2 separate regions of the Homo sapiens genome follow, and region 1 is linked to region 2. Evidence: fine-mapped expression QTL. A gene starts in region 2. The other region holds a variant in brackets. All regions are shown on one strand. Distances are from middle to middle.

Region 1 (11,558 bases), 520 kb after region 2:
GGCCAACGCTGACCTGGAGGTGAAGATCCGTGACTGGCACCTGAAGCAGAGCCCAGCTAGCCCTGAGCGGGACTACAGCCCCTACTACAAGACCATTGAAGAGCTCCGGGACAAGGTGAGCCCTTGGAAGCTGAGGAGGGGTCCTCCATGAAGGGCAGAGCCTCCAAGGCCAAGAAACACAGTGTTGTGGGGGACTAGGTGTGGACGGAATTCACAAACTTCTTGCAGGGGAAAAGCCTACTGTTTGACTACCAAGAGTCTCTACCTCTGATGGGCTTTCTCATGCCACAACTCCCCAAATGCATTTTCTCTCATTATTCATTTTTATGATTGTTATTACTCAGGTCAGTTTTTTTACTGCTTTCCAGACAGTTATGTTATTCATGACTCGATCTCTATAATCCTAACCTACTGAGTTATCTGGAAACATGACAGGTTTAAAAGCCATTAAGAATGCATGAAATCAACAGAGAAAGAGAGACGTGTTCATTCATTGCCCTGGGAATAATTGTTTACTTTGTAGGGGACCCATTCAAACTGGTATTCTCAACTGGCGATGGCCAAGTTGGGGGAGAGAGAGGCAGAGGCTTAGGCAGTGCCGAGCCTGGGTGCCCTTTGTTGAGCCCTGTCTGTTGTGCTGTGATACCAGCCTGTTGGAGCAGAAATCTACCAGCCTGGGCTGAGTCTCAGCCATGTGGAGCAGGCTTTCACTGCTTTGGAATATAAACGTTTAGACAAGAAATTCAAAGGGATGGGAATATTTGTTGGATTTCCCCTCCACTCAGCTGGGAAGTCAGCTCTAGCAAAGTGATTGTGAGATATGTGGCACCAAGCCGAGTCCCTCCTGACTTTCAGGGGATGGATCTCAAGACAGTGGCCTAGGGAGGGTGCTAGTCTGAGGCTGCCAAGACATGACGAACCAAAGATGTTCTCAGCAGGTCGTTCCTCAGAAATGCACTCCCTGCATCTCCCCCAGGGTGCTCAGACATGGAATATTAAAGTGTTAGAAACGATTGGAGGGGATGCAGCCCCACTCCTCACTTTACAGAAGAGCAATGGAGGCCCAGAGGGAAATGCCTTGTCCCAGCTCACAGGACAGTTTAGAGGTAGAGCCCCATGGGAACCAGGTCCTGCCCATGTTTTCCCAGGCCACCTCCTCAAGCACGTGGACCCCCCAGAGCAAGCTTGTCTAACCTGTGGCCGGTGGGCTGCATGTGGCCCAGGACAGCTTTGATTGAGGCCTAACACAAATTTGTAAGCTTTCTTAAAACATTGAGTTTTTTTTTATTTTTTATTTTTGCCAATTTCTTTTTAGCCCATCAGCTATCGTTAGTGTTAGCGTATTTGATGTGTTGCCCAAGACAATTCTTCTTCCAATGTGGCCCAGGGAAGCCAACAGACTGGACACCCATGCCCTAGAGGTTACCTTCTTCTGCATTTTGTAGATCCTGACCGCCACCATTGAAAACAACCGGGTCATCCTGGAGATTGACAATGCCAGGCTGGCTGCGGACGACTTCAGGCTCAAGTGAGTTTTTTTTTTCCCCCTCCCTCTCCTTTCCCAGGAGTCTCTTAGTTTAGACAAAAGCTCATCTGACCAATGACACTGGAGCATCCCAGGAGTGAAGGTCTGGAAGTACTGGAGTCTCGTGCAGGGGTAGGGAGAATGTCTCATATCATTTATGTCTTGCTTTTTCAAAAAACATTTCATTTTTTTACTATTTTAGGTATGAGAATGAGCTGGCCCTGCGCCAGAGCGTGGAGGCCGACATCAACGGCCTGCGCCGGGTGCTGGATGAGCTCACTCTGTCTAAGACTGACCTGGAGATGCAGATCGAGAGCCTGAATGAAGAGCTAGCCTACATGAAGAAGAACCATGAAGAGGTGAGCGGGAATTGCAGGCTGCCCTGGGCTCAACAACCTCCAGTGAGAAGGAGGAGCCCTCCCCTGCAACTGGACACAGTCCTCCACTGTGGGACCTGGAAACACTCTCCAGAACACTCTGCCAGCACTCAGAGCCAAGGAGAGGGAGGATGAGTAGCCTCACACATCTTCCTTTCCCATCCCCACAGGAGATGAAGGAATTTAGCAACCAGGTGGTCGGCCAGGTCAACGTGGAGATGGATGCCACCCCAGGCATTGACCTGACCCGCGTGCTGGCAGAGATGAGGGAGCAGTACGAGGCCATGGCAGAGAGGAACCGCCGGGATGCTGAGGAATGGTTCCACACCAAGGTACCCGGCCCTCCCACCCCACATAGCCCATCCCATATAGCCAGGGGGGCCGGGCGGACACAGCCTCTTGGTCAGGCTGCTCGAGCTGAGCTTCCCCACCACCTTCTTCCTGCTTGCATTTCAGAGTGCAGAGCTGAACAAGGAGGTGTCTACCAACACTGCCATGATTCAGACCAGCAAGACAGAGATCACGGAGCTCAGGCGCACGCTCCAAGGCCTGGAGATTGAGCTGCAGTCCCAGCTGAGCATGGTATGCCTGCAGCCTCCTGCCCGGTGGCGACCACCTCTAGGTTTCCCTCTGGCCTGGCTCCCTCTGTAACTTCTTGTCTGTCGCTCCACCAGAAAGCGGGGCTGGAGAACACGGTGGCAGAGACGGAGTGCCGCTATGCCCTGCAGCTGCAGCAGATCCAGGGACTCATCAGCAGCATCGAGGCCCAGCTGAGCGAGCTCCGCAGTGAGATGGAGTGCCAGAACCAAGAGTACAAGATGCTGCTGGACATCAAGACACGTCTGGAGCAGGAGATCGCCACCTACCGCAGCCTGCTCGAGGGCCAGGACGCCAAGTAGGTCCTCTCCAGCCTCTTTCTTAGGATAGTGACTGCAGGACCCGTGGGTGTCAGAGCAGGCAGGGCCTTAGAGATCCACCCCCTCATGTCAGAGAGGAGACCCCTCACTGTCTGACTTTACGGGGACATTTCCTTGGTAGGCTGCAGGGTTAACACCTTTAAACTTTCTAATTTGGGCCTCCAAGTTAGACTGGAGGGAACAGAGACCATGGAGGGAACATCTGATATTGGAAAAACATGAGCTTGGATACAGCTCAGCTGAACAAAGCTATTACTATGGTGCTTTAACTGCCTTTAGACCCTTTGCAGAAATCAAGCCACCCCTGTGGGCTCAGGGCTCAGGTGGAGGGTTGCGGGTTTGGGCGATCCAGAGGGAAGACAAACACCCTGAATCTTGTGGCTAATAATATCTCCCCTTGAGACCTCTCAGACAGACAGACAGGAAAGACAGACAGTCCCAGTGGGCACCTGATGCTGCTGTCCCTTGAGCTGGGGGCACAGCTAGGAGGCACTAGAGTCCAGCCCAGGGGCTTGAAATGATAAGCCGAGGCACTTCCCCAGAGGAACAGGTAAGCACCTGCCCTCAGTTACCCTCTGCTCATGGCCACCTCTGTCCTCTCTCCCAGGATGATTGGTTTCCCTTCCTCAGCAGGTAAGGGAACAGCCCCGTGGTGTAGGGGGAGGCAGAGTTAGCCTCCCATTCACTGCCCCAATGGGGGTGGGAGCTGGCGGGGAGGGAGGGAGCCAGTGCTGGGCTCTCCAGTGTAGGGAGGGGGAGAGCTGGGGTGGAAGTGGTCATTCGCTCACTGATTTTCCTTTTGAAACTGATGGCTCTGCCCCACAGAGCTATTTGGCTGTCTTGGGAAGAGCCATCTTTGGGGACAATAAAGAGTCTCCATCCACGCACCACCTGACTAATGAGGAGTTTGTGAGCCCTCCAGGGGGGCCCTGCCCTGTCCTGAGGTGGGTCTTCTCCAGCCTGAGCATGTCTTGTCTCTTGTTTCCCAGGAAGCGTCAGCCCCCGTAGCACCTCTGTTACCACGACTTCTAGTGCCTCTGTTACCACCACCTCTAATGCCTCTGGTCGCCGCACTTCTGATGTCCGTAGGCCTTAAATCTGCCTGGCGTCCCCTCCCTCTGTCTTCAGCACCCAGAGGAGGAGAGAGCCGGCAGTTCCCTGCAGGAGAGAGGAGGGGCTGCTGGACCCAAGGCTCAGTCCCTCTGCTCTCAGGACCCCCTGTCCTGACTCTCTCCTGATGGTGGGCCCTCTGTGCTCTTCTCTTCCGGTCGGATCTCTCTCCTCTCTGACCTGGATACGCTTTGGTTTCTCAACTTCTCTACCCCAAAGAAAAGATTATTCAATAAAGTTTCCTGCCTTTCTGCAAACATATTTTTGATTCTGGCCTGGTTTCTTAGGTGGCCCCTGCTAGGGCCCTGGTTTAGCGGGTGAGGGGGACACAGCTGGGCGGAGTAGCTAATCCAGACAACGACAAGCCTGGGGAGCTTCCTATCTAGGAAGGACAGACATAGGCCCATGGGCCATCTGAGCACACAGACACAACAACGGCAAACACAGGGGACACAGGCAGCTCACAGACGATGGTGTCCAGCAGACATGGACAGACGGAACACACCAGAGAC[A/G]GCGCAGGGGCACGTGAGCCAGTTCAACAGCCTTGCAGATTAGGATGTTCAGTGAGAATGGCAGCTGATAGTAGAGTCAAGGGAGCGTGAAACATGGGCAAAAAGTACAGATGCCTCTGGGGCAGGCTGCAAGGGGCCAGTGAAGGGGTGATCTGGGGAGAAGGAGGCCCAGCCCCCACCTGCCACCTCCCTGCTTCCTGCAGAGAGGTTTATTCTCAGGCAAATGGCTCCTTGTTGGCCTGAGGCATCCACTCCTAATGTCCTCCCCAGCCCACCCCTAGGTCTTGCCACTCCCAACCACTCCTGGGACCAGCTCCCTGGCTGGCCGCTGCACTAACCTGGCCCCTTCTCTCTGTGCTCCCCACTCTCTCCCTGCCGCTTTGGCTGCCCCTGCTCTGATTCGCAACCTCTTCCTGCTCTGCTCACTCCTTGCACGTTGACTCACCTCCTGGATTCCGGTGTGGGTGTTCTTCTCTTTTTCCTCTTCACTGTCCCTGTGGGTCATCCAGGACATAACCATGGTTACAGTTGCCTGTATGTTCTGATAACGCCCAAACTCGAATCTCCACTGAGGCCCCTCCCAGCCTCAGACTCCCATTGCCAACAGTGAGCCAGACATCACCTCCTTCAATCCACCCAGGCAAAAGAGCTCCCATCATCCTCCCAGATCTGCTCCTTCCTTGCCCTTTATCCCGGAGAACCTGGAAAGCTGAGCCAGGAGCCCAGGAGTCATCCTGGCCTCCTCTGTCCCTCACCCCCTTCACAATGCTTCCCGTGGACACTGCATTAGCCATAATGTCCTTCCTGGTCCTAACTATGGGCACGTGGCCACAGCCTCCTCACTGGCCTCCCTGCCTCCATGCTCCACACTCCAGCAGGGGTGATTACTGGAAACTGAGTCTTCTTCTCAGCTTAGAGACACCCCAATCGCTCCCTGCTGGTCACTGAGGAAAGCCTAGACACCTCGCCTGCCTCCAGGTCCTGGTGGTGCAGCTTCTTCTGGCCTCTCCCCAGCTCTGGCTCCTACACTAGCCTCCCTCACTCACCCCAAATTCCTGCCATCCCAAACTGCCCTTGAGGAAGCAGGCAGGTGGCTGGGCACCCTGGGGATTTTGTTCGGTGACAGACCTCTGTCTGACCCAACCTTCTTCTCTCCTCTCTCTCCACACTCCTGTCATCATTTTATTGGAGACTACCAGTTTTTTATTCAAAATTCAGACTGAGATGGATGCCCCCTCCTCTGCAGCACCTGGCTGGGGTGGGGCACACTTGGGTGTTCACATGTGTGTGCCCACCTGTCCTAGAACTGACAGTATCGCTGAAGTGTCACTGAAGTGACAGTGAGAAAGGCAGGGCTGTGCCTTCCTCAAAGCGGGCGGGGGGGGGGGGGTCTCTCATCCAATAGAGTGCAGGTGGGCTCTGTCAGTGCTGATGAAAGGCAGAGGTGAATGAACAAACTGGGGAAATGCCCCTCCAGTGCCATTTGATTTTCGTTAAGGGGCTTAAGGCAGAGGGTAGATGGAGTTCCGGCACCCTGGCCATCTGCCCCCTTCCTCTGGCACCATCTTCATATTCCCTCCCCTCCCCTCTGCTGCTCCCCTGTGTGGTCTCCCCCTTCCTTGTCTTCCTTCTCTTCCCCCACCTCAAGCCTGAGTATGGGCTGCACACAGTTGTCTTATTCACACAGTGGTTGCTCAGACATGCCTGGCCCAGCTTGCTAAACTAGCAGAAAGGTGTCTACCCTCCACCATTCCAAATCCCACCCCAGACCCCGCCACCCACTTGTTCCTACAGAACAAGGTGGGGCTCGGCTCAAGTTCACGTGCCTGGAACAGCACCAGAGGAGCTAAGGCATTAAAGAGAAACAGGACATGCCCTTGCTCCCGGCACCTTTTAACGTTTTTGGTAACCTATTTGGTCAGCAGCTATCTATTGAGTGACCACTGTGTACCAAGCACTGTGTGGGGTCCTGGAGAAAGAGAGGCAGATGAAAAGAAGGCTCTGTCTTCAAGGAGTCCACGGGTTAACAGGAAGGTAGGAGGAGACACCCACAGCAATGAACAGTCAACAGTCTTCACAACTCTGCTCAGGTTTCATCGTTTGCTCTGGGTCTTCTCTGGTCTTCCCCACCGATCCCAGCAAGACCCTGTGCTGTCAGCAATGACTGGAGTGCAATGTTTGTGGAGCCCAGAGCCACAGGGACCTGATCTGCATTTGTAATCCTGGGCAAGTTACTTAACCTTCCTGGCCTGACTTCCTCATCTGCTAAGTCTTCCTTCCTCATAGGTTAATTAAAGTCAAGTGCTCAGAACAGTCACTGGTGCATAGTAAGTGCTCAGTAAACAAGATACCTCTGGTCATGATCTTTCTCGTTCTCTTTTCTAAGCTATGCGTTCCTTCTGGGTAGGGCTGGTTTCATCGTCAGTCTCATCCTCATACCTAGAACGTTATAAGGGCTCAATAAATGTGTTGAATGGAGAAATGAGGGAATAAATAGATACAAGCTATGGGAAATGAAAGTGGTAAGTAAGTATTGTACAGAGAGCACAGGAGCCCCTACCCTAGACTGAGAGAGGGGCCTGGGGTCTCAATGCTGAGCTACCCTGGCTGCTCCAAGGCACCCTGGGGTCCAGATCCCAGGGCTTATGGGGCCCAGAGCAGCCCCTCTTCCTGAGACCCCGGGCATGGCTGTTTAGGGGCAGCCCCCTCATTCTCTGAGCTAGTTTTGCAAAACTTGGTGGGGGGTGAGGGTAGTTGCCCACAGGAGCAGTGAAATGAGCTGCACTCTAGGCCCAGTGGGGACTCTGGCCTGGGAGCCTTTCACCCAGACCCCAGCAAGGACACTGAGAAGCTGGGCCCCATCTGAGGACCTATGTGGCCCCATCAGGAATCCCGGGGAAGCTCAGAGGGCAGGCCGAGAGCAGGTGTTTCTGCCAAAGCTACCCCAGGAGCCTTCTTGAGTTGGGAGTAGCAGGTGGTCATCCCGGCTCTCTGGTCAGAAGGGTAGGAGAGGCAGTGGGTGGGGAATCCGCCTCATTCTCTCTGGGACTCAACTCTTTATCAGGTGTGGGGCGGCCATTCAAGTGAGGGCAGATTTATCAGGCCTGCTGGGTCAATGCTCCCCTTCCCAGGGTTGACCTAGGTGCCACGCCCATGCCAGTCTCACACCGCTGATTCCCAGTGCTGTGGCTATGAGGAAACAGCCCCTTTCCATTGGCACCTGGCTAATGTCCATGCCAATGATTGTGAATGAGGCCATGTCAGCACAAGAGATGCCGGAATGAAAGAGATAACGGAAAGGGGGACACAGTAGCGCATCCTTTACTCTCATCCTTTCTTTCATTTCATCTTTACAGCAATCCCATGAATTGGCACAGCTGTGCCCATTTTACACATGGAAAGACTGAGGTCTGGACGGGGTCAAAGACCTGCCCAGCGGGAGAGCTGGGACCTGTGGTTCCAATGTGCTTTCCAAGACTGGGGCTGGTCCTTTGCCAAGGGTCAAGCATTCGGCTCCAGGAATCTGGGGGAGAAGTGAGGCTCTCTCCCAGACCCCAAAGCCTAGGGGATGAAGGAATCAAGCCTGTGATGTTCCTGGGGTGTCTTGGCACCTCAGAGCCAGGTCGGGTTCTGGAGGGAGGAGGGCAGCGGGTGGCACACAGAGGTGGAGAGACGTGGCGCTGTTCTGTGACTCCTGGTGCTTCAGCCACTTCCTCCTCACCCCAAGCAATAGGCACCTCCCTCTCTTCCTGGCTCCACCCTGGGGAATGAGCCAGGCTGCTGCCCTCCTCAATGCGATGGCTGTCCTGCCCAGGCCCTGCAGGGGGCAGGCTCACCCCAGAAAGCAGATCAGTGCCTCAATGGCCACCTGCTGGGATACAGGGTGGAGTGGCTGGGCCCTAGACCCAGTCCTGGCCGGGCCTGGTCTCAACATAGGGCCCCGTCCGGTCCCCAGCTGGGCCCTTAACAAGCAGGGTGTGGCTGCAGGCACATTCCAGGCCTGAGACCCCCTTGGCGCCTGTTCCCCTCTGTGTTGGGTGATAGTTTTGAGGATCCACAGAAGACCCTTGACAGGCAGGGTGTGGCTGCAGGCACATTCCAGGCCTGAGACCCCCTTGGCGCCTGCTCCCCCTCTGTGTTGGGTGATAGCTTTGAGGATCCATAGAAGATCCTGAGTATGAGATGGGGTGTCTGGGCCTTCCTGGCAGGGGACTCTCACTGTCCCAGCCAAGGGAAGCTCTGGGGAAGATTAGGAAGCAAAGTCACAGCAGGAGGTGCAGGGCGATGGGTGTGATGGACTCTTCCAGATTTTTTTTCTTTTTTTTTTTGAGAAAGAGTCTTGCTCTGTCACCCAGGCTGGAGTGCAGGGGCATGATCTCTGCTCACTGCAACCTCTGCCTCCTGGGTTCAAGCAATTCTTCTGCCTCAGCCTCCCAAGTAGCTGGAATTACAGACATGCACAACCACACTCAGCTAATTTTTGTATTTTTAGTAGAGACAGGGTTTCACCATGTTGGCCAGGTTGGTCTCTAACTCCTGACCTCAGGTGATCCACCTGCCTCCGCCTCTCAGAGTGCTGGGATTACAGATGTGAGCCACTGCGCCTGGCCACTTCCAGCTTTTCTTATCCAGCTGTGGGGGCCCTTCCTTCCTCCCTGCCTGGGTCAGGGCATCTGAGGGGCGGCCCAGGGAACTGGCCTCTTTTGGATGGTGTCCCTGGGACTGTTGGTGGCTGGAGCAGAGCAGAATATGTGGGTTGTGTCCCTTTGAGCAGCTCCTCTGGGGGCTTCAAAAGAGCTGGGCACTCTTTACACCCTCCATCCTCCTGCAGAGTTTGAAAGAAAATAAGCAGGTGGCGGGTGCTGCTGAGACTTGCACAGGCACCTGTTGGGGGTGGGTATTTGGGGGACTTGGCCAAGAGCTGGTATCCCTTTTTATGAACAGTCATAATGACTGTGGCTTCTTTCATCCAAGGATCTCAGACCAGTTTGAAAGTAAAATCCACAGTGTCAGGCATGGTTAATTACAGCCCGGAGCCCGCAGTCTGGTTTGCAGACACGCTGTTGTTCGTAGGAAGAGAGTCAAATCAATTGCATGCCGGCCCCTGTAAATGCAGACTACAAGTCCAATCAAACAGGGTGTTTGGAAAATTCGCTTTATGGTTCAGCTAAGTGATACTTGAATCAAGGGGACGCTAGACACTGAGGTACCAGCTCTTTTCTCCCAGTGGGCCTGGCTGTGCATCTCCCACAATCACAGCTTCTTCAAGCACACCAAGGAGAGAAAGGACGCTCTGAAATGCTCCAACCATAAAAGTGGGGTGGGGGAGTTAGGGACTCGGTGAGTCTGAGCAGGAGACTGTGGACTCTTCCAGATGGGAGCTGGCAGCCAGTGCAGCTGTGCAGGGAGCGCTGGCCCCAGGGGAGAAGGTGGTGGGCCCTGAGATGTGGAAGGCCGAGCTTGGCCACAAGAGGACCAGAGAGGTATGGCTTAAGGCTGGAGTTAGGGTGGCTCTCTGGGCATCTGCCACGGCAAAAGCAGCTTGGAGCAGAACCTTGAAGTCCTGGGCAAGTGCAAAAACCACACCCCAGGGGGAGAGAAAATACTTTTGTATTTTGGGGGAGATGAGATTTCTAGAGTAACTCCGGGCCTGGTCAAGTGGGACTTTGAAGGCCCGATGAAGGTCAAGGCCTGATGGGGGCTCAGGAACAGGCCAGGAACAGCAGGTTGGGAAGCTGGACCTATGCTCCTTGTAGGGCCCCAGAGTCTCAGGAGGAGTCACTGCTCAGGACCAGGACCAACACTGTGGAGGGGCAGCCAGGCAGTGGGGGGGACCTCCTTCACCACTGAGTCATGTTCAGATTGTCTTGAACCTGGTGAGGCCGGGTGATAGCAGGGGGCAGGTGGACATTTGGGGCACAAGCTGGGGGGTGGGAAATGGAGCAGAGAGAGACTTGCTAAATCTTGTCCAGGAAGGTCTGAGTCACCCTGTTGAAGGCAGCTGCCATCAGGATGGAATGTCACTGAGGTGGCCAGGATGGGAGGCAGGATAATTCAGCTTCTGCATCTCCAAGTACTGTTTGGACTTGGGAGGGCAAGAATGACAGCCACTGACAGCAGGGTGTGAGAGGACAGGAAGGCACGATTCTCCAAGGGAAGCCCTCTGTGTCTGACCCTGAGAACAGCCAGCCATGGTGACAGGCCATCAGGGAAGGAGGGAAGAAAGAGCTGCATTTGTGTGGCCAAGGCTCTCAACCAGTGATGTTTCCTTACTGAGGGTTTCAGACACAGGACACTCAGATCAGAATTGCAGGTAAACAAACAACAACAACAACAACAACACAGACACACACACACACCCTATAAGTATGCTCCTAATACCACATTTAAAAAATTTGCTAAATCTGGCAACCCTTTCTTTATCAGGTCTGTGAATGGCCCTGAGTTTTCCACCATCAAAACTGAATAAACAGCCAGGCACGGTGGCTCACGCCTGTAATCCCAGCACTTTGGGAGGCCGAGGCGGGTGGATCACAAGCTCAGGAGTTTGAGACCAGCCTGGCCAACAAGGTGAAACCCCTCTCTAATACAAAAAATTAGACAGGCGTAGTGGCGGGCACCTGTACTCCCAGCTACTCGGGAGGCTGAGAGGCAGGAGAATGGTGTGAACCCAGAAGGCGGAGCTTGCAGTGAGCCGAGATCTTGCCAGTGCACTCCAGCCTGGGTGACAGAGCAAGACTCTGTCTCAAAAAACAAAAACAAAAACAAAAACAAAAACAAAACTGAATAAACGAGACTTTTCCTGGAGTTTTTGGAAAAATTACATTGGTGGCTAGAAAGGGCTTAATTGTAGGGTTTCCCCTTTCTGTGAGGCTTTCTTCAACTTTGTGTACCTGTTGTTGCATGTCGGCACTAGAATCTAATGTAAGTTGACAGTGGATTTGGCATGAGCTGTTGATGGGGTTATTTGACACAGAATATATAGAACCCTGCTTTTCAGGGGAGGGGCCAGGGCTCCCAGGTGCTTTGTCACTTGAACACATTCTTCGTTCCAAGGAAAATTTAGTCATGTGGAGGAAATGAGAATGAGTTGTGGGTCTCCCAGGGTCCTGGGTGA
Region 2 (12,304 bases):
GCTAATTCCATGCTAAGCACAAGTGTGACATGACAGCTTCTCTTTCCTATCTTGGACATAGGGCTTTCTCCCTCCGTATTTGTTCAGTGTTGTAGAGTTGATCTGTTACAATGTAAGTTTTATTCTTCCAGGGGGGAAAACCACCAGGAGCAGCTTTTAGCCTGTGTGTGTTGTGATCAAGTCCTATTCCTTATTTTTCAACTTCTTCCACTGTTCCTCCCCCTCCAACAACACTCACCCACTACATGGTTCCCATACAGAAGCTGCTCCAGGATTGAAGTTTTGCCCACAGACGCCTGGCCACACACGACCACCTTGCAGCTCTTCCCCATGCTTAGTTTTCAACCTTGAAGAACAGAAGCACGCTGGGTAAGGTGAGGAAAGAAAGCATCAACACAGAAGGCAGTTACTAGCAGATGTTTTCTGGTGGACAAAAACAAAAACCAAAAAAACAGAAGGCAGAACGTCCATAACTGAGAGTTCTAAACTGAATGTATAGTTCTAAACTGAATGTATAGTTCCAGGGTTTCAGCACCATCCCAATGCTAGTCAGAGGAAACGGATGTCTCCATGTCTACTACTGGATGGTAAGCTGTTATTTTATTCGTCTTTGTTATCCCCAGTACCTAGCCAGTATCTGTCACAGGGCAGGTGCTTGGAAATGCTGCCATAAAGGGAGAGGAGAGTCACTGGCCACTGGGCCAGGTTCCCTTCTGTGCGCAAGATGTAGAGGACCAATTAGTAAAGGGAGCTCAGCCCAGCTTCCTCTCTTTAACCATGACCCCATGGAGAATTAAGCAGGAACAGTGTTTTGTGTGGCTGTCTGAAGCCATCTGCTCCCTGGGGGGACTGAGCAAATAAAAAGGATAATCTGGGGCAGGGCACGGTGGCTCACGCCTGTAATCTCAGCACTTCGGGAGGCCGAGGTGGGCAGATCACAAAGTCAGGAGTTCGAGACCAGACTGGCCAACATAGTGAAACCTCATCTCTACTAAACATACAAAAAATTAGTCAGGCGTGGTGGCGGGTGCCTGTAATCCCAGCTACTTGAGAGGCTGAGGCAGGAGAATCGCTTGAATCCAGGAGGCGGAGATTGCAGTGAGCCAAGAATATGCCACTGCACTCCAGCCTGGGCGGCAGAGCAAGACTCCGTCTCAAAAAAAGACAATCTGCTTTCCTGTACGACTCATCTGGACAACAATCAATTCCCTCTAAACTCCAGTCAAGTCTATGGCTAAAATGAACATAAGACAAGAGAGAAAAGAATGAAGAAACCTACGGAAAAAAAGGCTTCAGAAAGGACATACTTTTTGCTGCCCTTGGACTGACAGACACAAAAGAGAAAGCTCAGATACAGAAACCCTAAGAGGTCCCAGACAGATATCTCCCCGAAGGCAAACTTCCAAACACAAGCCCCCCAAAAGCTCCAGACAAAGATCCCCCCCAGAGAGCAGAGATAGATCACTCCCAAAGACGGTCCCTAACAGAAACCTCTCCAGGGGAAGCTCCTGACACAGACCCCCTCTCCATATAGCGAGCCCCACAATAAAGGACACCATAAGAGTGGGCCAGAGGTGCCTCCGCCACAGATTTTCTCACGGGGGAGCCCCCAGAGGGAATGAGAGGCAGAGACCAGCCACCTAAAGCGGCCCGGAGGCGGAGGCCGATCCTAGCGCCGGACGAGCCTCGCCTCCCAGGTCCGTACCTCCCGGGGCCCCCGCAGCACCAGCCGGGCCCTCCGAGCTCGCGGGGACCAGGGGAGGGGCAGCGCCGCCGCAAAGGCTCCAGTCTTCCTCCAGAGTCGGTGTAGGCTCCTCCAGGCCCCGCCCCCGCCGCCTGCCCGCTCCCCAGCTTCCGTCAGGCAAGACGAATTCCGGCAGCGGAGAGAGAGCGCGGACCGCGCAGCTCCCCCAGAGGCCGGCGGGAGAATGACGGCCAGGACCTGGCCTGGGTGTGCGCGGGAGCCCAAGGTTCTAGACTCCCTGGACGCGGGCCGCTGGGTGTTCTGGTGTCTCTGAGGCCCAGATGTTCTCTCTGTAAAGGCGATCAGAGTACAGTAACTCTTCGTTTACTCAATCATTTATTCGTCAAATGTTTTCTGAGCATCATCTGTCTGTGCCTGGTGCAGGGCCATATACTGAGAGAAAGTGGACGAGTTAGACATGGTGGCTGCCCATCAGAACTCACGGTCTAGAGAAGCTAGATGTCTAACAACTACTGAGGTGCTGTGGAGCACAGCAAAAGGGCATTTAACGTTGAGTCAGCAGACACTGAAGGGCCTGGGGGAAAGGGTGTTCTAGGGTGGAGGAAACGGCTACAAGTCATGGCATTTTCTGAAACTATGAGAACTTGGGTTCAATATTGGTGGTAGAAAGGACCTAAATATTGGTACTCAAATTAAATTATTTAAAAAAAGAAACAGATAATCAAAGGCTTTGTGTGGTAGGCCAAAGAGATCAAATTGACGGCAATGGAAAGCCATTGCCAATGAAGAGACATGATCAGTCCCTGAGGAAGGTCACTCTGGCAGAAGAGGGAAGACTGAACAGAGATGAAATTAGAGACCGATTAGGAGACTATTGATGTATTCCAAGTTTTTTTTTCTGTTGTTTTGTTGTTGTTGTTGTTGCCGTTTTTGAGACAGGGTCTTGCTCTTTTCTCCATGCTGGAGTACATTGGTGTGATCATAGCTCACTGCAGCCTCTAACTCCTGGGCTCAAGTGATCCTCCTGCCTCAGCCTCCCAAATAGCTGGGACTACAGATGCATGCCACCACACCCAGCCTATTCCAAGATTTTAAAAAATGATGAGCGCCTGAATCGGGATGGAAAGGTGGAGATAGATTTGGGAAATATTTGGTAGGAGAATCAACAAAACTTGGCAACAAATTGGAAGCCAAGAGTGAGAATGGTTTAATCCATTTAACAAGATACGGAATTTAGGAAAGATAATAATTACATCCAACATTTGTTTTTTCTGTTGTTGAGGTGTGGGTAGACAATGAAAAAGTTAAATTTAAATATGGTAAGCCTTGGGGATTTGTGAAACATACAAGAGATATCCAGTAGATAGTTGGATATACAGCTGTGGAAGCTGAAGAAAGGTCTAGGTTGGAGATATGAAAAGTTGAGAGTCATCAACAGATGGAAGTAAAGCTGTGGGAATAAATGAGTTGCCTTAGATAGAACATAAAGTGGGAAGATGGTGAGACAGGTTGGCTAGCATTAGACTGGACTATGAGCCACTGGCAGGCAGGGCAGGTGGTCTGTAAGTCTTGTGCCCTCACAACCTAGCACAGAGTAGGCGTTTTGGAAAGGGCTGAGTGATTGGCTCAACGAATGACCCCTCCTTTCCAACCTAGTGAGCTTGTCCTATCCCTCCCTACTCAGTGGTCGCTGTGGTTTCAGCTCCCTCCACACTGGGATAGGCAGAGTATGAGCATTGGCACATGCTGTTTTCCTGGAACAAACAGGTAAATCCTTTTAAAATTCCTTTGCCCTCTTCTTATTTTACTCTTAGCTTTACATTGTAAAGCTACTCCTCATACTCCTCCAATTTAACCCCAGAAAGCTCCAATTTAATTCAGCTCCACAAATAGTCGTTTGGGTGAGGGAATAACAACAAAGACAGTTAAACTGTGCCCTTGTCCCCTATGAATTCTCAATCCAGACCGCATTCGGCAAGGCAAGCGTGATGAGTAGAGAGTTTATATAAGAGGTGGGAGTACTGGGGACACAAGAGCAAGGACCTCACCCCGCGAGCTTCCTTATAAACTCCAGGGCAGGGTCTGGGGCGCCATGTGTCAGCTTTCCTAGGCTTAATGCTGAGATGGCACTCCCAGGCGGCTGACATGAAAGGAGCCTTGTAAAAGGGTCAGCGTCATTAGGGTGATGAACCAGTTGGTGTTTGGAGATCCGGAGTGGATGAAAGGCGCAGGGTGAAGACGCCCTGCGTTCCCCTGGCTTGACTGGGCAGGGCTTCCAGAGAACGATGAAAGCTGGGGGAACTGAGCTCAAAGTGTCTCTTGACTTTCCCGGGAAGAAGCTGTGGACACACTCCAAGGTCGGAAAGGTAGCAGTGGGGACTCCTTCCCTACAGAGTCTTGGGTCACCTGGTCCCCACGCAACCCAGACTCCACGGAGCCTTTCAGGAAGACTCTCTAGGATTGGAAGTTGCTATGGCAATGAGGCTCTTGGAATACTGAAAGCAGCCAAGCCCTAGAGAGGCTACCACCGGTACACCCCGCCTTCCCACCCACGGGTAAAGTGGCGCCGCCTACGCACCGGCACAGCCCCTGGGCTCCCGCCCCGGCGCGGAGACCACCGTGGACATCCGGGGGCGGGAGGCCGCTCTGGCCCCAAGCGGAGCCTCTCTCTGGTAGACGAGCCCGAGGGAGCCCTTCTGGGCGCGGCGCCGCGGAGCTGCTCTATGCTCCAACCGGAAGTGCTCTTCACCGCCGGCCTCCCACCCAGCTCTCTGGTCCCGGCGGTAAGATGGCGGCTGCCGCGGAGTGCGATGTGGTAATGGCGGCGACCGAGCCGGAGCTGCTCGACGACCAAGAGGCGAAGAGGTAACCGGGTAGCAGGGTAGTAGAGGAGGCGACCTGCAGCTCCGTGGCTCAGGGAAACTCGTTCCTGCCATGATGCAGCCCCCAGCTGTTGAGGCGATGCCCCGCCCTCCGCAAACACCCCCCCATCTGAGATCAAGGCCGGATGGACCCCCTGAAGGGGCGCTCTTGGGGGTCGGCCTTCCTCTCCCGCTTCCGCCTGGCGTAGGAGCTGAGGCATGGCCTTGTTCTCCAGCTGAGAGGACGATCGTCCTTATAGGAGAGGCCGAGTCTCCGAGGGCAATTTCAGAGGTCTGGTGCGAGGTGGGGGAAGCGGCGCGGCGTCGATGACGACTTCCTTACATCGCCCCCGACCCCCGCGTTCTCTTGTTAACTTCTGTGCATTGTTGCCTGTCTGCACTTTCCGTCTCCAAAACCTTTGCTCTCCTCACCCCGTTTTCCCTTGTAATTATACCCCAGCGATCACTAGTCTGGGTTCGAAGTGATTGTGTGTCTCCATAATTGACCTGGTTGCCCCCGGTTATCCCAGAAGTCAAAGATGACAGAGAAAAAAAGGAAGAGCGAGGGGCTTATCTCGTGTTCTCTACGTCAGACTCCTCTTCCCCTGTCCTTCCTGGGTGATCTTTATCCTTCCCAGCACTGTTCTTTCTTAAGTTAAGCACCAAGGAAGAGGGCAACTGCTTGGGCGCTGTTGGCACTCCGAAGCAGCCGCAGTGGTTCGAGATTGCCAGTCGGACTAGCCAAGGGAGCTGCTGAGTGAGTGGTTTTCGAGAACGCTCTAGATTCTGGCAACAGTTAGGCCAGATTATTGGAAGTGGGGTTGGAACAGAGTTGTGGGTAGTCATACTTGTTCTAATCCTAAAGCAGAATTGACAAGAAGGTTCTAGAAGTTTGGAGCCCTTTCCTTATCAGCTGCGGGTTAGTCTGACCCTTTTGTTCAAGATATCTACAGTGCCCTCAGTCTCTTTGCAACATACTTTATATCTTCATACCAAGCCCGTTGTGTCTTCAGGCTGGGTAATTTGAGGCGGTGATGTAGAATTAGTTCATGAGATCTGAAATCAGGATTCTGAGATTTTTACTATCTAATGAGTTCGAAATATAAGAAGTACTCGGACGCAATGAATAGTTATCAAGCTTGAGGGTGGTTACCACAGCCAGATCTCAAGTTCCTGATCTGCTGGGAGCTGAGGGGCCTGACAAAGTGTAATAGGCCCCTGGGATATCAGAGAAGCCAGGACACCAGAGTCCAGTCTCTGTTCTTAATTTTGAGCTTTCATGTTGTTCCTACTTCTTCCTAGATATTTAAAGCTAAGCATCATCAACCCTTATACATCATTAAAGAGCTGCACAATGGGAAACAAAATTCCTCCCAGTGCAGACGGAGCTTAAATTAATTGTAGAGATTTACTTGTATTTGGAAAGAGTTCAGTGGTTCTTTATACTGTAAATAGGGATTTGGCCACAGGTTATTTATTTTTTATTTTTTGAGACGGAATCTCGCTCTGTCGCCCAGGCTGGAGTGTAGTGGCGCGACCTCAGCTCACTGCAAGCTCCGCCTCCTGAGTTCACACCATTCTCCTGCCTCAGCCTCACCAGTTGCTGGGACTACACGTGCCCACCACCACATCCGGCTAATTGTTGTTTTTTTTTTGTATTTTTAGTAGAGATGGGGTTTCACCCTGTTAGCCACGATGGTCTCGATCTCCTGACCTCGTGATCCGCCCACCTCGGCCTCCCAAAGTGCTGGGATTACAGGCGTGAGCTACTGTGCCGGGCTGGCCATAGGTAATTTTAAAAACTCACCCTACTCATTGTAAATCTCTGATGTAGAGTGTCCCTATTTTGGACTTCATTTCATAGCCTCCTATCTTAAGCAAATACATTTCTTCAATCACAGCCTTAGAGGATAGTCTATCATAAAATTGGAGTAAATGAACCTGAAGACATATAATAAAATAGGTTATGCTGTAATGTGACCACATCACACAAAACATGGTATTTGATAGCAGTACAACAAAATAAGGTAAACTACCTTATTTCATGGAATTTAAGTGTCATTAGGCTGGGTGCAGTAGCTCACACCTGTAATCCCAGCACTTTGGGAGGCCGAGGCAGGTGGGTCAGCTGAGGTCGGGAGTTTGAAACCAGCATGGCCAACATGGCAGAACCCTGTCTCTACTAAAAATACAAAAATTAGCGGGGCGTGGTGGCACACACATGTAATCCCAGTTACACGGGAGGCTGAGGCAGGAGAATCGCTTGAACTCAGGAGGTGGAGGTTGCAGTGAGCTGAGATCGGGCCATTGCACTCCAGCCTGGGTGACAAAGTGAGATTCCATCTCAAAAAAAAGTCATTGATTGCAGAATGCAAATTATTTTATCTGTCACTAAGAAAATGTAACTGTAAATTAAACATGACAACATGCATTATTCCTGTAGTTCAAATAGTGACAGAAAAAAATTAATTAAAAAAAGAAAAAAGACTGGGCGTGGTGGCTCACACCTGTAATCCCAGCACTTTGGGAGGCCAAGGCGGGTGGATTACCTGAGGTCAGGAGTTCGAAACCAGCCTGACTAATACGGTGAAACCCCATCTACTAAAAATACAAAAATTAGCCAGGTGGGGTGATGCTGTAATCCCAGCTAGTCAGGAGGCTGAGGCAGAGGTTGTGGTGAGGGGAGATCATGCCATTGCACTCCAGCCTGGGCAACAAGAGCAAAACTCCGTCTCAAAAAAAAAAAAATCAATTAAAAAAAGAAAAAAATGCATTCTTATCAGACTTTTATGTTTCTCATATATAGCACTGTTTTCGACAGACTTAAACATAGTTATTTATTATATACCACTTTTTTGCACAAATCAAAAGGAAAATTGGCTGGGTGCAGTGGCTCACACTTGTAATCCCATCATTTTGGGAGGCTGAGGTGGGCGGATCACGAGGTCAGGAGTTTGAGACCAGCCTGGCCAACATGGTGAAACCCCATCTCTACTAAAAATAGAAAAAATAGCTGGGCGTAGTGGTGGGCACCTGTAATCCCAGCTACTCGGGAGTCTGAGGCAGGAGAGTCGCTTGAACCCGGGAGGCGGAGGTTGCAGTGAGCCAAGGTCACACCATTGCACTCCAGCCTGGGCGACATGGTGAGACTCCATTTCAAAAAAAAAAAAGGAAAATAAGTGAAATAAACAAAAAAATCAGTTTAACTTTTTGCCATATCAGACATCCTTAGAAGAATAAACATTGGCCGGGCGCGGTGGCTTATGCCTATAATCCCAGCACTTTGGGAGGCTAAAGCAGGCTGATCACCTGAGGTCGGGAGTTTGAGACCAGCCTGACCAACATGGAGAAACCCCATCTCTACTAAAAATAGAAAAAAAAAATTAGCCAGGCATGGCGGTGCATGCCTGTAGCCCCACCGACTTGGAGGCTGAGGCAGGAGAATCACTTGAATCCGGTAGGCGGAGGTTGCGGTGAGCCGAGATCGTGCCATTGCACTCCAACCTGGGCGACAAGAGTGAAACTCTGTCTCAAAAAAAAGAATAAACATTAGGCTCTGTTAGTATGAAAAAGCCTTGTTTATGTATGATTTTTCCAGTGCTGAAAATGGGATGGAGATTTAGAAGCTTTGGAGGGAGGTGGTTTTATGTTTTTCATGTGTCCTGGATTCCTCTTGTGTGGCCATAGCAGAGGGCAGTGATAGGGGCATCCCTTACAAATGCCCTTTTACTGTCTGGCTTGGTTAGAGTTCTTTGGCCAAGTTCCTGCCTCTGTTGTTATGGTCCTCCTACCAGTTCATTTAGGGATCAAGAGTTAATGAGTCTCTCGGGTCGTTTTTGTGAGGTCCAGCTTTGTAAGGAGTCCTTCCTTCCTTACGTCTTGGCTTAAGACATGTCCTGCTGCTGCTAAGTTGTCACAGTCCCATAGGGGGGCAAAATGAGAGGAGCTTTTAAGACGGACTTCACGATTGCAGCATTTTAAATGGCTACATGTTTTATTTCCTTAGCTTTAGTGTTTCTGTAGAGAAAAGAGATGGATTTCAATTTTTTTGCATGTCACTCTGACAAAGTTCTGTTTCCCTTACAGCAGCCAAGAAACTAAAATAAGGCTAGGCTTAGTGGCTCATGCCTGTAATCTTAGCACTTTGTGAGGCCAAAATGAGAGGATCGCTTAAGCCCAGTAGTTTGAGACCAGCCTGGGCAACATAGTGAGACTTAGTCTCTATAAAAACATTTAAGGCTGGGTGCGGTGGCTCACGCCTGTAATTCCAGCACCTTGGGAGGCTGAGGCCAGTGGATTGCTTGAGGCCAGGAGTTCGAGACCAACCTGGGCAACGTGGTGAAACCCGCCCCCCATCTCTGTAAAAAAAAAATACAAAAATTAGCAGGGTGTGATGGTGCATACCTGTAGGCCCTGCTACTTGGGACGCTGAGGTGTAAGTATCACCTGAGCTGGGGGAGGTCGAGGCTGCAGTGAGCTGCGATCACACCACTGCACTGCATCCTGGGTGACAGAGTGAAACCCTGTCTCAAAAAAAAGGGTTGGGGCTAAAATAAAAGATATATTAGTTGGCACTCCAAAACAGATCAGGATTCTATGCATGAAGATTATTTCTCTTTGCTCACCAAAACAGGCAAAGCTATTTATGAGCCAGAGGGTTAAACTTCAGATGTTTCACATTTCAACTAACTTAAGGCTTTATATTTTCCTGGGAAGTTGCTGACTGCTTTACCTAATATGGGAATACCTGTCTTGAATTAAGGATCTCTTGTTATATCTCCTGGGCTGGGAAACAGCTTGATCTCTATAGGGAGTCTTTCTTATGGTAAACTTGAGGGATTTCAAATTGTTTTCTTTTCTTTTTGACGGAGTCTCGCTCTGTCACCAGGCTGGAGTGCAGTGGTGTGATCTCAGCTCACTGCAAACTCCGCCTCCTGGGTTCAAATGATTCTCCTGCCTCAGCCTCCCGAGTAGCTGGGACTATAGGCGTGTGCCACCACACCCAGCTAATTTTTGTATTTTTAATAGAGACGGAGTTTTACCATGTTGGCCAGGATGGTCTCGATCTCTTAACCTCATGATCCGCCCGCCTTGTCCTCCCAAAGTGCTGGGATTACAGGCGTGGGCCACTACACCCAACCTCAAATTGTTTTTCAAAGAGAAAACACTTACGTGTCTCAGCATATACCTAGTGTGACTGGACAACAAGATCTAAAAGAATCAAGGGATCCATAGACTTAAGAGTCAGGACATCCTTACCTGATTCCTTGAGCTGATAAACTTAACTTCTCTGTATGTTTTCCTGATGGGCACAAATAAGAGCAATTCTTATTAGGCCCTTACTACCTAGGTATTGTACACTCTTTGCGATTAGGATTTTGCCTTTTATTTCTCTATTCAGATTGTTAATGGGAACAACTGAACTCTCAATTCATGTCCCGGGTTTCCTGTAGTTGCTGTTCGTTTGCTGCAGCTTTGCATGGTGTTTTTGAGTTTGTGGCCTCACTTAACTGAAGAGCTTGTGGGCATGCCTCCCCAGCTTTCTTCCTTACCTGGTTTTAAATTCTTAGGAATGTGTCCTTCTAATCTTCCTCTTGAAGTTTCAGAGCAAGCACCTAGACATTTCAGTAAGCCTCCAAACTGAGTGGGAATTTATCTTTGACCTGGAACCCAAATCAGTGAGAAACACTATTTTCCTTTTGCTGTGCACTAAGTGTAGTCAGATGTGAAGAAATGGGAGATGGGAGGAGAAATAAGTTAAGGAAGGGATAAACCTAGGAATACAGAATTCTCAATACCGGCAAATTAATTGAACCCTGATACTAACAGATGGCAAAGTAGATAATCATAACTGGAGCAAAGGTAGAGTACAGAGAAAGGTTCTCTCTTAGTGCTTTAGTTCAGATCCACATGTTAACTAGTGCCAGAGAAACAAGAATTTTGAGAAAATATAGGGCCAAGTGAGTGGCAGTTGCTTAGAGTCCAGTCCACTCCCAACAAACAGAACTCTGATTGGCCGAAAGCCCAGCCTTATTGTACATTCCAGCCAATCAGGGATTAGTTTAGTCATTGAAGTTTGTATTTTAATGGTTTTGAAAAGCTGAGTACTGGGCACTTGCTTTTTTGTTCTTCGGGACTTTAGAAGTTTGGAGAACAATAGTCAGCAGTTGCCTAGTTGCTTTGTGGCCTGATGCAGAGTCCCTCTGAGAGCCCATTTCTCCCTTACTGCACTAGTCTTTGGTCCCCTTTCTCCAGCACTGAGTGATGTGGAAGTTACTCAGAGGTCTTTCCAGGTATTCTTTTAAACTTTTGAAGTAAGAACAAAATTCAAAGTGCAGTTATCCTAACAGGCTATTCATTTTATTGGAGTGACACTGTTTTTCCTTCTCCCATTCGGATCAAAATGGCAATTCCTATGTTTTACCCTCACCATGGGTAAGAATATGAGTGGTTGAGGCTTTTGAGAATGGTAATAGGAGGAATATATGACTCTCAGGTCTTATTCTGAGACGTGAAATTCTATTGGCATGTGACTTACAATTTGTGTGGGGAGGCCAGATTGTCAGATAAGCAGTGTTAACCATCTCTCTTGATTCTAATATTACTTTTGGAGAGAGTGTGAGGGGCAAGCAGGACCCTCTCTTGTTTTTGGAGTTTCTGTCCTGAGAGTTCTTCCTTGGACAGTTTGCCCTGAGACAGTTAACCACCTGTTGAACTAAGGAACCAAGACAACTTTGAGAAGTGAAATACCGTTGACAATCCAGGCTCCTCCCCACTCTAGTTCCCATCTCCACCCCACCCCACTCCACCCAAAAAAACTCAGGAAGCAGCCTTTATATATATATATTTTTGAGACAGAGTTTCATTCTTGTTGCCCAGGCTGGAGTGCAATGGCGCAATCTTGGCTCACTGCAGCCTCCGCCTCCCGGGTTCAAGCAATTCTCCTGAGTCAGCTTCCTGAGTAGCTGGAATTACAGGCATGCGCCACCACGCCCGGCTAATTTTGTATTTTTTTTTTTTTTTGTAGAGACAGGGTTTCTCCATGTTGGTCAGTCTGGTCTCGAACTCCCGACCTCAGGTGATCCACCCGCCTTGGCCTCCCAAAGTGCTGGGATTATAGGCGTGAGCCACTGCACCCGGCCTAGGAAGTAGCCTCTTTCTTTCTCTCTTTCTGTCTGTCTCTTTCTTTCTTTCTTTCTTTGTGATGGAGTCTTGCTGTGTCTCCAGGCTGGAGTGTGCAATGGCACGATCTCGGCTCACTGCAATCTCCGCTTCCTGGGTTCAAGCTATCCTCCTGCCTCAGCCTCCTGAGTAGCTGGGACTACAGTTGCATGCCACCATGCCCAGCTAATTTTTTATATTTTTAGTAGAGACGGGTTTCACCATGTTGGCCAGGATGGTCTTGATCTCATCACCTCAGGATCTGCCCGCCTCGGCCTCCCAAGTGCTGGGATTACAGGCGTGAGCCACTGCGCCAGGGCAAAGCAGCCTTTTCCTTAATTGTAGTTCCTCAGTTTTAAATTTTTGATGGGTGCTGGTGTCCCTATAGTGGGAGATGTCACAGAATAGGGAACCGAGGGATGGAAAATGGTGGGTTTGGGGATATGTTATGAAAACAAGCCTCTGGCTAATGCTGAAAAGCCAGTGACTTGTATCCTCAGAATGGTTTCAGAGAAGCATGTTTCCCAGAAGTAGCTTCATTGTTGGGTCTCCTCTCCCCAGGGATAAGTGAAGGTTA

Alleles and levels. Positions count from the first base shown, and alleles are read on the strand shown. Sizes are in standard deviations (SD) of each study's normalised expression.
For the expression in pancreas of the gene that starts at base 4,471 in region 2, G is the low allele of the variant in region 1 and A is the other (small effect, 0.23 SD a copy in GTEx).

The links.
Region 1: its variant is fine-mapped to the expression of DNAJC7 in pancreas (GTEx, PIP 0.98).

Annotation. Positions count from the first base shown.
Region 1 is chr17:41,493,613-41,505,170 of GRCh38, reverse strand. KRT13 (keratin 13) reads left to right here. Exons shown (of 8, transcript NM_153490.3): 1 at 1-115; 2 at 1,446-1,528; 3 at 1,728-1,884; 4 at 2,073-2,234; 5 at 2,359-2,484; 6 at 2,577-2,797; 7 at 3,427-3,452; 8 at 3,809-4,190. The coding sequence ends at 3,915. Among named protein-coding and RNA genes, the nearest start is that of KRT13, 6.2 kb to the left of the region's middle. The variant A/G (reference allele first, on the strand shown) is at 4,442.
Region 2 is chr17:42,009,606-42,021,909 of GRCh38, reverse strand. DNAJC7 (DnaJ heat shock protein family (Hsp40) member C7) reads left to right here and starts at 4,471. Exons shown (of 14, transcript NM_003315.4): 1 at 4,471-4,570. The coding sequence starts at 4,494. It overlaps NKIRAS2 (NFKB inhibitor interacting Ras like 2), which reads right to left and starts at 1,820. Exons shown (of 4, transcript NM_017595.6): 1 at 1,706-1,820; 2 at 239-346. The coding sequence starts at 332. RefSeq lists silencers at 1,527-1,936, 4,163-4,312 and enhancers at 4,423-4,832, 4,903-4,952, 4,063-5,262, 10,440-10,969.